Linked DNA regions of Homo sapiens. The protein of the gene in region 1 interacts with the protein of each later gene in a pairwise test. Each region holds a gene or a part of one and is shown in the gene's direction. Other genes may lie near its edges. The genes, in order: RHPN1 and HAP1.

Region 1 (6,347 bases):
GCCCTGCAGGCCATGCGGACCCCCAGCCGGAATGAGTCGGGCCTGGAGCTGCTCACAGCCTATTACAACCAGCTGTGCTTCCTGGATGCGCGCTTCCTCACCCCTGCCAGGAGCCTCGGGCTCTTCTTCCACTGGTAGGGGCTCTGCGGGCGGAGGCACCCTGGGGAGGGGAGGCCCAGCTGCGGGAACCGTGGGAACTCCACCCAGCCTGACCCAACACTGCAGGTACGACTCGCTTACTGGGGTCCCGGCCCAGCAGCGTGCCCTGGCCTTCGAGAAGGGCAGCGTTCTCTTCAACATCGGTGCCCTCCACACGCAGATTGGGGCGCGCCAGGACCGCTCCTGCACCGAGGGTGCCCGCCGCGCTATGGAGGCCTTCCAGAGGGCCGCTGGTGAGGGCGGCCCGGGCCGCGGTGGGGCACGGCGCGGTGCCAGGGTGTTGCAGAGCCCCTTTTGCAGGGCAGGAGCTGGGGAGTGGTTAGGACATCAGTCCCTCAGGTAGGGGGAGTGAGCACATCAGGTCCATATGTGTCCCAGGAGCATCCCTAGCTGGCCGCCCTGAGTGCTGCATGGGGCAGAGATGGGCAGGTACAGGGCCCTGCCTGTGTGAGCACCCCTCCCTCCGCAGGGGCCTTCAGCCTCCTGAGGGAGAACTTCTCCCATGCGCCGAGCCCAGACATGAGCGCTGCGTCCCTCTGCGCACTGGAGCAGCTCATGATGGCCCAGGCCCAGGAATGTGTGTTTGAGGGCCTCTCACCACCTGCCTCCATGGCCCCCCAAGACTGCCTGGCCCAGCTGCGCCTGGCGCAGGAGGCCGCCCAGGTGAGCTCGGGCACCCGTGTCAGGATGCAGGGGGTGGGGCCGAGCTGGGGTCAGAGCCCAGGTCCAGGCATGCGTGAGCTCTCCCACCTCCTTCCTTGTGTGTCAGCCCCGAGCCAGCTGTTGTCCTGCTCCCTGGGGGGGCTGGTCAGGAACCTGGGGACCCGAGCCTCTGCCTCCAGGGGATGGCACAAAGCAGCAGGAACTGAGGTGCCAGGGAGGCTGCTGGGATGGTGGTCGGAGCAGGTGGAGGCTGGGTAGGGAGAAGCAGGCACCACCTGGAGAGTGGGAGGCCCTCGCGTGCCTGCCACATCCACCGGCAGGTGGCAGCCGAGTACAGGCTAGTGCACCGGACCATGGCCCAGCCACCCGTCCACGACTACGTGCCTGTCTCCTGGACTGCCCTGGTGCATGTCAAGGCCGAGTACTTCCGCTCCCTGGCCCACTACCACGTAGCCATGGCCCTCTGCGACGGCTCCCGTGAGTGCCCACCACACTTGCCCATGGTACTGCCAAGGCCCCCCCGCGCAGGGCTCACAGCCTCTCTGTCCCCCAGCAGCGACCGAGGGAGAGCTCCCCACGCACGAGCAGGTCTTCCTGCAGCCCCCCACCTCCTCTAAGCCCCGAGGCCCTGTGCTGCCGCAGGAGCTGGAGGAGCGCAGGCAGCTTGGTAAGGCGCCCATGGGTGGAGTGCCCTGGGGCTCAGATGGTCACCAACGGTGGCAGGGTGTCCCCCACCACCCTCATGCTGTTTGCCACCTGCTGTCCCCGTGCTGACGAGTTGGGCCACCTACCTATCCCTGGATGGCCTGTGCCTGATGGGTGACGGCCCAGCGCAGGGGCCCCAGGAGTGCTGGGCAGCCTCTGAGCAGGTGGGAGACCACTGGGAGCAGCTCATCCCTGGCCCCTGCTTTGCACGTGGCAGAGCCCTCCTGCACAGCCAGCTCCTCACCCCCGTGGCGCGCACCCCCAACGAAAGTGGCTGTGATGAGCCCCACAGCCCTGGCGTTGCCCACTCCTTCTGCCACGTCCCAGGGCCCACGGGCCCACATGGTGTGTGACATCCCAGTGCCCCGCGTGCAGGCAAGGCACACCTGAAGCGTGCCATCCTGGGGCAGGAGGAGGCGCTGCGGCTGCACGCCCTGTGCCGCGTCCTGCGCGAGGTGGACCTGCTTCGGGCTGTGATCTCCCAGACGCTGCAGCGCTCACTGGCCAAGTATGCGGAGCTCGACCGTGAGGATGACTTCTGTGAGGCTGCCGAGGCCCCGGACATCCAGCGTGAGCAGCCAGGGCCTGTCTGGGTGGCTGCATCCCTGGCCAGGGTGGGGGCCTTCGTCCTGGAGAAAGGGAGGCTGATTGCATTAAAGATGCAGTCACCACGATGAATTAAACAGCAGTAGCACTTTCCAGGCCACGATCACAGGGACCCACAGAGCTGCTGGGCCCTTCAGGGGCCTGGGGGATGACCACGCTCCTCAGCACCTCCCTCCCTGCACTGGCCTCCTACCCTGAGGGGAAGCCCACAGACCCAGGACAGGCATGGCTGGGACTTCAGGGAGGGATTTTGGGAGCCACTTGGGGCAGAGGGGGCCGTGTGTTCAGGGCACACCTGGGGCAGCTCCTCCCACCATTGCAGAGTGGCCAGGCCTGGAGGTCAGAAGCGGGGCCTGTGTGCACTCAGGGTCATGCCCTGCGCCCTGGAAAATCCCCGAGGCAGGTCTCCACAGTCTCCCAGCTTAGCTCTGCTCTTACACCCTCTCAGCTAAGACCCACCAGAAGCCAGAGGCCAGGATGCCACGCCTGTCCCAGGGGAAGGGGCCTGACATCTTCCATCGGCTGGTGAGCACACCCGTCCCCAGGCACCGCCCAGCATGGGCAGCTTGGGCTGTGTGGCTCTGACCAGCACATGGCCTCAGACAGGCCATTGATGGTGGTCCAGCCCTCCCCACCCACCTTGTGGAACCCCACGGTGTCCCTCGGTGCACAGGTTGGATGGATGTGCTAGTCAGGCGGGGTCTCCTCAGTGTGTGGCCCAGCTGGGCCTCTGACCTCTGAGCCCCTGCCAGGGGCCCCTGTCTGTGTTCTCAGCCAAGAACCGGTGGCGGCTGGTGGGGCCCGTCCACCTGACCCGAGGAGAGGGCGGCTTTGGCCTCACGCTTCGGGGAGACTCGCCTGTCCTCATCGCTGCCGTCATTCCAGGGAGCCAGGCCGCGGTAAGGGCCCCGCCGGCCCCCTGAGGCTGAGTCCTTGGTGCCAGCCAGGGTGTCCTGTCCCCACCTCACCGTCCAAGTCTCCCCACAGGCGGCTGGCCTGAAGGAGGGCGACTACATTGTGTCAGTGAATGGGCAGCCATGCAGGTGGTGGAGACACGCGGAGGTGGTGACGGAGCTGAAGGCTGCGGGAGAGGCGGGCGCCAGCCTGCAGGTGGTGTCGCTGCTGCCCAGCTCTAGACTGCCCAGCTTGGTGAGCCCCTGGGGCCCCAGAGGGGCGGTCCCCAGCTTGCTGTCACCACCCTGGCCCTGGGCCTGCCTTGGATGCTTGAGCAACATTGGGAAGGGGAGGTGGGGCTGCAGGTAACCCTCCCTGGGCCGCCTCCTGGGCAGGGGCCACCTGTGCTGTGGCCTCCATCTGGCAGCTCTTGCCCTGACCCCGAGGATGCTGCAGCCCACCCCTCACTGGGCCTCTGTATCCTCAGACTGGAGGCTTCTGGGCCAGGCGCTCCATCCCAGAGGTTTTCTCTACCCAGCATGGCTGACCCAGGGTTGGGTGAAACCCATGGGCCCCTGCTATGTGGCCACCCTGATGGGAGCCCCCAAACAAGCCCCCGACGTGCCAGCCCCTCCCAGGTGGTTCTCACCCCTCCCAGACTGGCTGCAGGTGGGGACAGGCCAGCAGTGGCTGACCACAGTCTGTCTCTGTCCCTGCTGCAGGGGGACCGCCGGCCCGTCCTGCTGGGCCCCAGGGGGCTTCTAAGGAGCCAGAGGGAGCATGGTTGCAAGACCCCGGCATCCACGTGGGCCAGTCCCCGGCCCCTCCTCAACTGGAGCCGAAAGGCCCAGCAGGGCAAGACTGGAGGCTGCCCCCAGCCCTGTGCCCCAGTGAAGCCAGCTCCGCCCTCATCCTTGAAGCACCCAGGGTGGCCGTGAGGGCCAGGATCCCTGCACGCCTCAGCCCTGGCTCCAGCTGGCAGCAAGCACCGAGCATGCCCTCCCCACCCAGAGGACCTCCGGGCAATGCCTGTCCCGCCTCATGCTGGAGGCTGCCTCGGGCACCTGCCTGCCCATTAAAGACTGGTCAGACCTGTCTGAGCCCAGTGATGGGAGCTGTGGCCTCTTCACCCACACACAGAAGGATGCCAGTCCCTCTGTCGGTCTGAGGTCAGCTTCCTGGGGCTGCCCCACCCTGAGGGCTCCTTACAGGGTGCTCCTCACAGCCATCCCATCTGTACCCCCGGGCTCTGTCCACCCTGCTGCTGCCCTGGGCACAGACCCTGAGGTCTCAGTCCTGCCTCCAGCCAAGTTTCTGCCTGGTGCCCAGTGATTCCTGCTGGGCACCCCTTCGCTCACTGCCCCTCCACCATGCAGCAGCCAGACACACCCACAGCACCCGCAGACCTCTAGGCCGGGTCCCAGACATGGCCTTCCCCCAAAATACTTCCTGCTGTCCTGTCTGTGCACAGAGCAAGGGACTCCCCACCTCTGCGCCCTGTGCTGGTCATCATGGGCTCTGTGCTGGTCAACCCAGCAAGTGTCCCGTTTGCCCAGGAGTCCCTGGTGTCGTGGCCCAGGTCTCATGGTGGCCCTAAGCCTGCCAGCCCTGCTGCCCGCCTTGCTGTCCTGCTCTGAGCATGGGTGCCACCCTCCAGCTCCTGGGCGTGTCACTTCTCTCTGAGCCTGGGGCCTGCATGGGCCCCCAGCCCTCCCCAGCCTGCTTGGGCCGCTCCTGCTGGCCTCCACAGGCCGTGAGCTGTCAGTGTCTCAAGCAGGGGAAGTGAGGGCTGCCTCCAGGCCTCCGTGTACTGGGTGGACAATGGCCCCCAAAGGCCGTCGGCAAGAACACCACCTCCAGGACCCCTACAGCAGTGGGCTCAGGACTTGGGCACCAAGAGGAGAGGGTGGGAAGGGCTGCAGAGTCAGGGCTGCACCCAAGAGGAGCCACGGAGCCGGAGCCGGAGCGGAGGCCCCCACCGAGGGCCCCAGGGCCTGGCAGGTTCCGGAAGAGACAGGGCCAGCGGGAGTCATTCCCTGCAGCCACTAGGGGGCAGCCGCCACCCGCTCAGCAGCCCTGGGAGGCGGCACGGGCAGGTGCGCCTTGGGAGGGCTGAGGCAAAGACCCCGGGTAGAAAGGCGGCCCCCAGCTCTGCGAGACCCCTGCCCTCTTGTCCAGTCCCTTCCGAGGGTCCGCAGGTGAGAGCAGCCTGCCCTGCATCCCAGGCTCTGGTTCCAGGGTCCAGGGCCCTGCGCTGCCACCTCCCTCGTGCTTCAGCCAAGAAAATGGGGGTGCAAGTAGGGTGTTTGGGGTCCCAGAGACGCAGGCGCCGCGGCGCGATCTTCCTGGGCAGGAGGGCAGGGCTCCCCAACCTGCCTGAGCCGGGGTGGGGGTCCAGGTCCCCCACTTGCCCTTGTGGGAAAATCCCTGTCTCAGCAGAATGGGCCAAGGTCACGCAGGTCTCCCCAGCACGTGTTAATTTGGTTAATAAAACTGTGGATCAAGGAGGCCAGTAGGCACTAACTGGGGATGACAGGGTGGCAGCCCTGTCTGGGAAGTGCAGGGACTCCCCACCTCCTGTGGCCTGTCGAGACCCAAGCTGGGGACAGAGCTGCCACCTGCCTCCTGCATGGTGGGCGCCAGGCCACCATAGCCTGGGGGAGGGGGCTTTTGCCCAGAGAGCACGCCTCTCCCCACCGCAGACCCCTGGGGTGCGCCCAACCCGTCCCACCCCTGCCCACACATGCCTCTCCCCTGGCTGCCACCAAGCCTGGGCCTGTGCTCCTGGCCCTGCCCTCTGCCCCAGGCCATCTCCTCCCCTGCTGCCCCCCCCCCCGCCGTCGTGTCCCTCTGCCACAGAGGGGGGGCCTCACAGCTGAAGCCACACGTGGCTGGGACCTGGCTCCCGTCACCGCCTCCGTCCTGTGAAGTGGAGGAAGCCTGGTGCACAGGGGTGCTGTGGCGATGTGGGGGGCCCTGAGGTCCTGCTGCCAGCCAGGGGGAGGGGGGCGGAGGTCCTGGGATCTGGGGTCCAGAGTTCTAGTCAAGGCAGGGCTGGGCAGGAGGGGGGTCCCCCTCCCCACCTTCCACTTGGGGCTGCTCTCCAGAAGAGAAAGCGGATGCCTACCAGCCCAGCCCCTCAGACTTGGACCATGCCCCTCCGGCATCTGTGGGAGTCCTGCCAGACAGCCCCTGGGCTGCGGGAAGGGACCGCGCCCCATCCCATCCTCATCCCTGCAGTAGCTGGTGGCTGCCTGCCCGGCGCAGGGGCCTGCTGAACAGGGGACTGCCCTGTCCAGCCCACCCACGGGACTCCAAGT
Region 2 (2,504 bases), on another chromosome or scaffold:
CTGTGCTTATTTGCATGGACTTTGCATATCATTTGCATAGACACCTCTGATCCCCTTCAGTGGGAACCGTAGTGTCAGTGCTCATTTATGTGGCATTTGCTTAGGATTCCAGATCTCCATCCACTTTTCTCCTGGGGGCTGGGCTGGGGGTTAGGGCTGGGACTGTGCCCCCACACTGCGCCTCAGCTTCCCATCTCTGCCCGCTTGCTTCCCCTGCCCCCAACCCCTGCCTCCTCTATCCCCCAGGCTCTCCAACTCTGCAGCAGTGGCAGCAGCAGTCAAAACAAACACGGGGGGCGGTGGGTGGGATGGTGGAGCAGCCCGGGGGCTGACCCAGGCTGGAGGACAGGGCCAGCCACCCTCCCACGGCCTGGGAGGAAGAGAGGCCTTCTGGGACTGCCCAGGCTATGGGGACAAAGGCCTTCACCAGCAAGGGCCACAGTTGGAACAGTCCCCTGGGTGTCAGAAGGTGGGCTAGGGCCTCCTGCAGGGTTGTGGGGTGGAACAGGGTCTCCTCTCCCCAGCCAGAAACCCCAAAGTCTGGGAGCTGCACCTTCCGAGTGCAGGCCATGTGAGCCCTGCCTCTTTAAGGAGCCGCAGGACATGAAAGATGACCTTGTGACACTCATGCACAGCAGCCATTGCACGTGCATCAGCTCCCATCAGCCTCATTCCGTGGCAGGTGATGTGTCCCCATTGGTTAGGTGAGGAGGGTGAGGCTCAGAGAGCTAAGGACACTTGTTTGGGGCCACACAGCCGGGGTAGATCTGAGCCCGTCCTCTCTACTCCTGTGCTGTAGCACCTTCACTGGCCCATCCCTCCCCTCTAGTGCTGTCCTGGTACCCGTCCCAGCCTGTCCCCATTCTCATGGCCCTTTGGTCACTGCCGGGTGGAATAGCACTGGCTTCAGCAGGCGTGTCATGTAAGCTTGTGCAGGTTATAAACTGAACCATGACCTTTATGGCGCATGCAGGGGGCAACCTGCATAATTATCAATGGCGACTTTCCGTGTCCTTCTGATACAGTTGATCAGACCCCTGCCCACCGCCCAGGCCAGGCCTGTGGTCATCAATGCCCCAGTTCACATCCACCTGCTTCTCTTCCAGGCTTTGCTGTTCCCCAGCAGCCTGCAGAGGCCCCACAGACAGCTTGAGGCCCCTCCTTCTGCTGCCTGGCCAAGCCCCACACCCGCAGACCCTCCTTCCCATCCTCTGAAATGGGACCCTGTGTCTGTCACCAGCCCACCCTCTGTGTTCATGAACCTGGGCTGGAGCTTGGGGACCCCTCCCTGCCCCTGGCTTCCTCTTCCATGTTCTGCCCTTTCCCACATGTTGGAGGCTTTTCCAACGTCTTCAGGGACAGGCGGTAGGAACCCCGGCCCTCGCTCTGCAGCTGGTGCAAAAGCTGTGGCTGCCAGGTCTGGGCCACATGGCAGCCCAGGGGGCAGGAGAAGCCCGGGAGAGGCCCACTGGCTACCAGACTCAGCCCTGAGCAGGGAACAGGGCCCAGCTTCCACCGGCAGGGAGTTGTGAGCGCCTTCCCAACAATGTGCCCCTCACCCCTTGATGCCCATGCTAATGGTAGCCACCCTGGTTCTTGTTGACTTGAGGGACCTGGCTGTCTTCCCTGTTCTTCATCCTTTCTTCTCAGTCCCTACCTACTGTTTGTAACCACAAGTGTCTCTGTGTGTGGGTGGGTGAGGGCCCCTCTGCCCAGTGGTGTGTCTCCTCTCCCTCCCTCCCTCTTCTGCCAGTGGCCTGGGGGTGTCCAGGCTCCCATCCGTGGCCCAGCCCCTCTCCCCTCTGTCTTGATCCCCCCCTCCCTGCCCCTGGCTTCCTCTTCCATGTTCTGCCCTTTCCCACACCTTTGTTCCTCAATAGCTGGGGGCTGGGACTGAGGCCTCCTGCAGGTACCTGCCCCCCTTCACACAGCACCTCTCAATCTCCTATTGCTTGTCAGCCTGTGTGCGTGTGGTGCAGGAAATAAAGGATCTATACCCTCCTGGCCCAGCCTCCAGCTGTCTCTCTAGGGAGTGTGTGTGTGCACTTGGCAGGGCGAAGTTGTAGAGAAAGGGTGGATGCTAATATTGAAGTATGTGCCGAGGACTCCTATTAAATACGCCGTTTAATCATAGCAGCAGCTCCTAGAGGGCGGTGGGTGATGTCATAAGTGTCTGTTGGATGGAGAAACTCAGGCCAGAGTAGGTTAAGTGATGCCCTCACCAGCAGATCATGGCTAGTGTGGAGCTGGGATTTGAGCTCATGCTTCCCTGATCCTTTCACCCCAGAGACTGACTCAGTGGCCTGGCTGTGAAAGATAGGATGGGAGAGAGTCACCCACTGTCTTAGGGTGAAGTCCCCAGAGCAGACCTGGAACAGGGTTTAGGAACAAGTATAGTCGCCCTCCGTATCCTCAGGCTCTGCATCCGTGGAGTCAACTAACCACAGATAGAAAATATTTGGGGGAGGCTGGGTGCAGTGGCTCATGCCTGTAATCCTAGCACT

What was found.
Region 2: the proteins of RHPN1 (region 1) and HAP1 interact in binary tests that used the Homo sapiens proteins (3 or more experiments, as listed by UniProt).

What each region holds. Positions count from the first base shown.
Region 1 is NC_000008.11:143,378,687-143,385,033, forward strand, and holds the end of RHPN1 (rhophilin-1), read left to right. Parts: intron 1-9; coding exon 10-134; intron 135-225; coding exon 226-392; intron 393-628; coding exon 629-822; intron 823-1,142; coding exon 1,143-1,299; intron 1,300-1,375; coding exon 1,376-1,489; coding exon of another isoform or gene 1,490-1,645; exon of another isoform or gene 1,646-1,902; coding exon 1,903-2,097; intron 2,098-2,581; coding exon 2,582-2,658; intron 2,659-2,885; coding exon 2,886-3,032; intron 3,033-3,120; coding exon 3,121-3,282; intron 3,283-3,749; coding exon 3,750-3,965; 3' UTR 3,966-5,535; downstream 5,536-6,347. UniProt on the Homo sapiens protein: Has no enzymatic activity. May serve as a target for Rho, and interact with some cytoskeletal component upon Rho binding or relay a Rho signal to other molecules.
Region 2 is NC_000017.11:41,722,140-41,724,643, reverse strand, and holds the end of HAP1 (huntingtin-associated protein 1), read left to right. Parts: 3' UTR 1-2,004; downstream 2,005-2,504. UniProt on the Homo sapiens protein: Originally identified as neuronal protein that specifically associates with HTT/huntingtin and the binding is enhanced by an expanded polyglutamine repeat within HTT possibly affecting HAP1 interaction properties.